Regions from separate parts of the Homo sapiens genome. Here region 2 is linked to region 1. Evidence: fine-mapped expression QTL. A gene starts in region 1. The other region holds a variant in brackets. All regions are shown on one strand. Distances are from middle to middle. Region 1 holds the start of GCSH (glycine cleavage system protein H). Region 2 has its middle 41 kb from the start of GCSH.

Region 1 (2,904 bases):
TGGGCGACAGAGCGAGGCTCCGTCTCAATAAAAAGAAAAAAAAAAAAAAAGAAAATTGTTTTTCCCCTGCAATAATTGTGCTGAAGTAGCACAAATGGCCGAAACATTCATGGGCAGGTTTCCCAGTTATTTCAAGTCCGTTTGAGTTAGGGCTCATTTCAGCAAGCACACACATGAATGATCCAATACAAACTTTAGCAGAACTTCTGTTGAGTCCAGAAGACTTTATCTTACTTGTTTTGGGGAAATAGCTGAATCTTCAAAGTTATGATTGTTTTATCTAGTAAAAAAATCTAGATCTGGCGCTTTAATTTTTTTTTTTTTTTTTTTTTTTGAGGTGGAGTTTTGCTCTGTCGCCCAGGCTGGAGTGCAGTGGCGCGATCTCGGCTCACTGCAACCTCTGCCTCCCAGGTTCAAGCGATTCTCCTGCCTCAGCCTCCCGAGTAGCTGGGATTACATGCGCATGCCGCCACGCCTGGCTAATTTTTTGTACTTTTAGTAGAGATGGGATTTCACCGTGTTAGCCAGGATAGTCTCGATCTCCTGACCTCGTGATCCGCCCTCCGGCATGAGCCAACGCGCCCTGCCTGGTGCTTTAATTTTAATAAGCGCTTCTGTTTTAATTTTACTTCGGAGTTCTCAGTAACGGTCCATTTAGTAAACTAAAGGCCTCCCCATTTGGGGTCTCAACGATGCACGCAGATGGGAGATAAACTTAAGGCCACCGAGACGCTTAAGCGACACGTGCCTGGCTTCTGCAGCAAGCGGCCGACCTGCCCGCCGGACCCGCCGGGCCACCCCCGCCTCGGTGTCCCGCAGGCCTCCCCTCCCGGCTGCATGCAATCCCTAGGGCAAAGGCTACTCGCGGGTCCTCCCGCTACTTAAGGGGGAGAAGCGGCCGCAGAGCCAGGGATCCCAACAGAAATAAGAAGGGGGCAGGGTCCGCGCTCGCTCCGCCCCGGTGGCTCAGGAGCGGTGCCCCGGCGTCCTCCGTGTCCCGCTGGGCCCGGGACAAGCAGCCCAGGCGGGGAGGGAGCAGCCGCCCACGTGCCCGCCGCGCTTACCCGAGAGCAGAGCGGGTCCAGTGCGCAGCGTACGGACGGCGCCCACCCCCAGCTGCCAGGGCCTCGGCGGGCAGGGCGCGGCGGGTGACGGGACCGCGCGCAGGGTGCAGAGCAGGGCCCGCACGCTCCGCACCACTCGCAGCGCCATGTTCGCAGGGGTGCGGGGGTCGCAGCGCTACGCCTCGGCCACCCGCGCCGGGAGGCGGGGCGGGGAGGGGCAGTTCGCGGCCGGAGGGAGCCGGCTGGATGGAGGCGCGGAGGCGGTGCCGCGGGGGCGGGACAGAGCCTGACTGGGCAGAGCGTGGAGGGCGGAGACTCCCAGGCGAGGGGGCGAGGCAGGGTCTGATTGGCCAGCACGCGGAGACTGGGGACTCCAGGGCCTGGCGCGACCTCGGATACGGCGACGCGAAAGAGGGGCGTGGGCATGGGGAAGAACCTGAGGCCCGGAAGAGGCAGCACCGAGAGGCGGAGACTAGCGCGGCGGGCCTGGGTATGATTGGGCTGCCCGCAGGAGGGGGGCGGGGCCTAGCCCCAGACTGGGTTCCTTTCCACATGTGTATCTCTTTTACTGCCTCTGTCATAAGTTTTCAAAGGTGGTTTCACCACCTCACGAAGGAATTCAAGAACAAGTCGGAAAGTCGTGAAAGTACAGAGGTTTACTGCAAAGTACACACTGAAGAAAGGGCGGACTCAAAAGAGGGCCACACAATGGGGCTTGGGGTTTCCATCTTTATGGGTTTCTTTGAGAAATGGAATATACACAAAGGTTTCTGGAATAAGGTGGAGACTTGTCAGAACTGTGGTGCCACCCATTTTTACACCAAATATGGGTGTTCCCGGAATTGTTGTGGTGCCGGTGGGTGTGTGACTTAGTATGTTAATGAGTCCTAGGTGAAGCCTAGGTCAAAGCCACACCACGTTGGGTCCAGTTGGTTTTAGCCAGGTTGACCCACACCCTGGTTTTTCAGGGTCTTAGCCCATAGCTTGTGCAGCTATTTCAACAGTTTCCTTTTGTTAGACAGAACTGCAGCCTGGAAGTTTCTATTCTCCTTCAACTGCTCTGTAACGTTCCTGTCTCAAAGAGCCCCAGGGACCCCAAACAGGACCGGCAGAATCCAGAAGCTTACTTAAAAAGGAATAAAGACTTGTCCAAGGGTCATAAGTGGCTTCTTGGTGGAGACTGGACCCAAGCCAGTCACTAATGCAGAAATATTCAAAACGCAGAGAGCTGAGACCCAGTGTGCACAATTCCTTGTTTCATCGGCCAGCGGTGTGACCAAGGCCTTCCGAGAAAAGCCGAAGTCATCATCCCAATCCAAGAAGTCAGAAAAAAATTAGGTTCTGGGAAAAACCTCACCTTTAACACAGATTTTATGGAGTGGCCATGAGTCAGCAAAGAAATACTGTTCTGAAAAACACCTTAAGCTACACACACACCTTTAGTACTGTTACAGAAAGGGCTCCCAATCCAGACCCCAAGAGAGGGTTTTTGGACCTCATGCAAGAAAGAATTTGGGGAGAGTCTATAAAGTGAAAGCACGTTTAATAGAGAAGTAAAGAAAAAAAAGAATGGCTTCTTCGTAGACAGAGCAGCAGTATGGCTTCTCGACTAAGTGTACTTATAGTTATTTCTTGATTGTATGCTAAACAAGGGGTGGATCATTCAAGAGTTCTCCAGAAAAGGGGCAGGGATTTCCTAGAACTAACGGTTCCTCCGCTTTTTGGACTATAGGGTAACTTCTCTGGACGTTGCCATTGCATTTGTGAACTGTCATGACGCTGGTGGGAGTTGTTTTTTTTTTAACATGCTAATGCATTATAATTAGCGTATAATGAGCAG
Region 2 (2,904 bases), 41 kb after region 1:
CACTCCAGCCTGAGCAACAGAGCAAGACTCCATCTCTCTCTTACACACACACACACACACACACAAATCATAAAACAGATCATCATTCTCATATGTAAAGCCCTTCCACATCCCAGCCTTGCCCCAGCTCCTATAAGACCCTGACAACCTGCTGCCCACCCCCTCTACCCTTATCTCTAACCATTCTCCCCCACCCCCAACTCAACATGCTCCAGACACACTGTCAATGGTTGCTATAAAATGGCTGCAATAAAACGACACCACTGTCCCACCTCGCGGCCTTTGCAGGTGCTGAGTGTGCAGTCCTTCCCTTCCCCCGTTCTCAGCAGAGAGGTTAGGCACCACCGCAGCAGAGAGGCCTGCCCTCTCTTGATCTTCCCCAACCCTATTTCTTACCATAATTCACACTTATATGTCTACTTGTGCATTTACCTGGTTGATGCCATCTCCCCAAATGGGCTGTTCATTCCAAAGGCAGCAACCTGTGCTGTGTTGGCAGGGACTGGGGTTGGAAGTGGGGATTGACTTTACATGGGCAACAAAGAACCTTTTGGGCTGACGAAGCTCTTCTAAATGTGAATTGCAGTGATGGTTACATAACCCTATACATTTACTGAAATCAACAAATTGTGCACTTACAATGGGTGAATTTTATGTAAATTATATTCCCAAGCCATCACAAGGCCTGGCCCGCAGCCAGTGCTCCCTGAGGACTTGCCAAAGGGGTGACTGAATGAATATTTAATGGTCTGGAGCCTAGCATCTCTGTGGAGAATTGAGAAGATTTTAATGGACCTCTCAGATCTGCAAATCTAAAACGCTGTCCTGGAATGGAAGAATACAGGCCCTGAAGAGGTAGCCACATTGCACTGTGAGGCACGTGCATGGCATTTGGTTTGTTTGTTTCTATTTTATTTTCCCTGAAAGGCAAGACCATTGCCTCAATGATTCCACGTTGATTCAGTTTTATTTGCATGTTTGTTTTGTCATTACTGTCACCACCCTTGGGAATTTTGGTTGGGAAGTGAGAAGTCAGGCTGGGAGGATGGGGACTGGCCAGTGGCCTCCTAGAGCAGGGGTGAGTGTGGCCGTATTTCAACAAACCTCTATTTACAAAAACAGGCAGCAGGAGACATGTGGCCCCCCAGCTGTAGTTTGCAGAGCTTTGTCCTAAAATTCTAATTTGCGGCCACTTTTTGCAGCCTCCTGTAAACCGATTCTTGTTTTAGTTTCTGTTCTAAAGCCCAGGGCCCTGAGTCTCGGAGAAGAAAGCTGCTTGCTTGGAATTACACAGAGAAGGACC[G/A]CCCATGTGGACAGCTTCGTCCCTGAGGCAACTCTTCTAGCTGGCAGGTCATACTTGGGTGTCATGGAGAAATGCCAGGGAACGAACAAACACAGATACTCAGGAGACAATGGAGTCACTTTTTTCCTGGCTCTTTTGGGGATGGCTCACAAACTGGGGGTGAAAAGCTGATGAGGAACAAAGGTCTGGGGAGCTGGCCCAAGGCCCAGGACCCCCAACAGGCTGCACTCTGCAGGGCTCACTGAGCCTCATCAGGGCCGCAGCTGGCCAGACCCTGCCTCCAGCCACCGAGGCACATTACCTGGGCCCAACAGATGTCCTGGCAGCGGGGCCACAGTATCCTCCTCATCGTCCACTCTCTTCAAGACCAGTGCAAAGAAAGCAGCGAATCCCAGCACCTGAAAAATACCCAGGGAGGTCCTCGAACCCACTCTGGTAACTCTCAACCCCTCATCTGCGAGCACGTGGGGCTTGGGGCCACGTTTGTATGTTGGGGAGGGCCCTGTGTTTTGGGGGAATGCAGCTCCCTTCTGCAGAGATGGGAGGTGGTCATGAAGCTGGACCGCAAGGCCTTGGCTCGCAGACCAGATGGGGGACTGGCCAGTCCTAGAACTCCCCTGAGCCTTCCCACCTACTACCGCTCACCTGTCTGAGGGGTCTCTGATCTCTCCGCAAGGAGAATTGCTCTCCCCCAGGGCTTTCAGCACAGGGATCCTGCCCCACCCTGCTCCTTCCCTTTCCTCCAGTATTAAGTAATGCGCTCAGGTGCAGGGTCTCAGCTGCAAGGCCTCAGCCACGTGATCTCTGCGCCTGCTCCACACAAACACAGGAGGATCCTGTGGTTCACTTGGGGAACAGAAAGGCTCAAGACGCAGCCCTGTTCTTAGTATCCTGCGAGCCTAGTGTTGAAGGGAGGTGTCGGATGCTTTTTGAGTCTTATGGTAAAGGCTGTTCAGGGAAGAATGGGGGACGAGAGGGGATTTGGCAAAGTCCCATAGGTGTAAAGATGAGCTTTGTTTTTTTTGAGATGGAGTCTTGCTCTATTGCCCCAGCTGGAATGCAATGGCATGATCTAGGCTCACTGCAACCTCCGCCTTCTGGGTTTAAGTGATTCTCCTGCCTTAGCCTCCCTAGTAGCTGGGATTATGGGCACCCACCACCACGCTCGACTAATTTTGTAATCTTTTTCTCTTTTTTTTTTTTTTTGAGATGGAGTTTTGCTCTTATTGCCCAGGCTGGAGTGCAATGGCGCAATCTCGGCTCACTGCAACCTCTGCCTCCCGGGTTCAAGTGATTCTCCTGCGTCAGCCTCCTGAGTAGCTGGGATTAGCTGCGATTACAGGCATGCACCACCACACCTGGCTAACTTTGTATTTTTAGTAGAGACAGGGTTTCTCCATGTTGGTTAGGCTGGTCTTGAACTCCTGACCTCAAGTGATCCACATACCTCAGCCTCCCAAAGTACTGGGATTACAGGCGTGAGCCACCGCGCCCAACCAAGATTTGCTTTAAATATCTCCTCCTTTCGGTGGCTTCCCCTACACCCCAATCCAGTATCTCTTCCCCTTAGGGGTTCCCCAGGGATTGCCCACTGCCCGACT

Evidence for each region.
Region 2: its variant is fine-mapped to the expression of GCSH in visceral fat (GTEx, PIP above 0.99). The same link has a PIP of 0.9 or more in subcutaneous fat.

What each region holds. Positions count from the first base shown.
Region 1 is chr16:81,095,067-81,097,970 of GRCh38, forward strand. It overlaps GCSH (glycine cleavage system protein H), which reads right to left and starts at 1,329. Exons shown (of 5, transcript NM_004483.5): 1 at 1,065-1,329. The coding sequence starts at 1,212. RefSeq lists silencers at 746-1,415, 1,566-1,665.
Region 2 is chr16:81,135,833-81,138,736 of GRCh38, forward strand. It overlaps the pseudogene PKD1L2. Among named protein-coding and RNA genes, the nearest start is that of GCSH, 41 kb to the left of the region's middle. RefSeq lists an enhancer at 1,714-2,331. The variant G/A (reference allele first, on the strand shown) is at 1,304.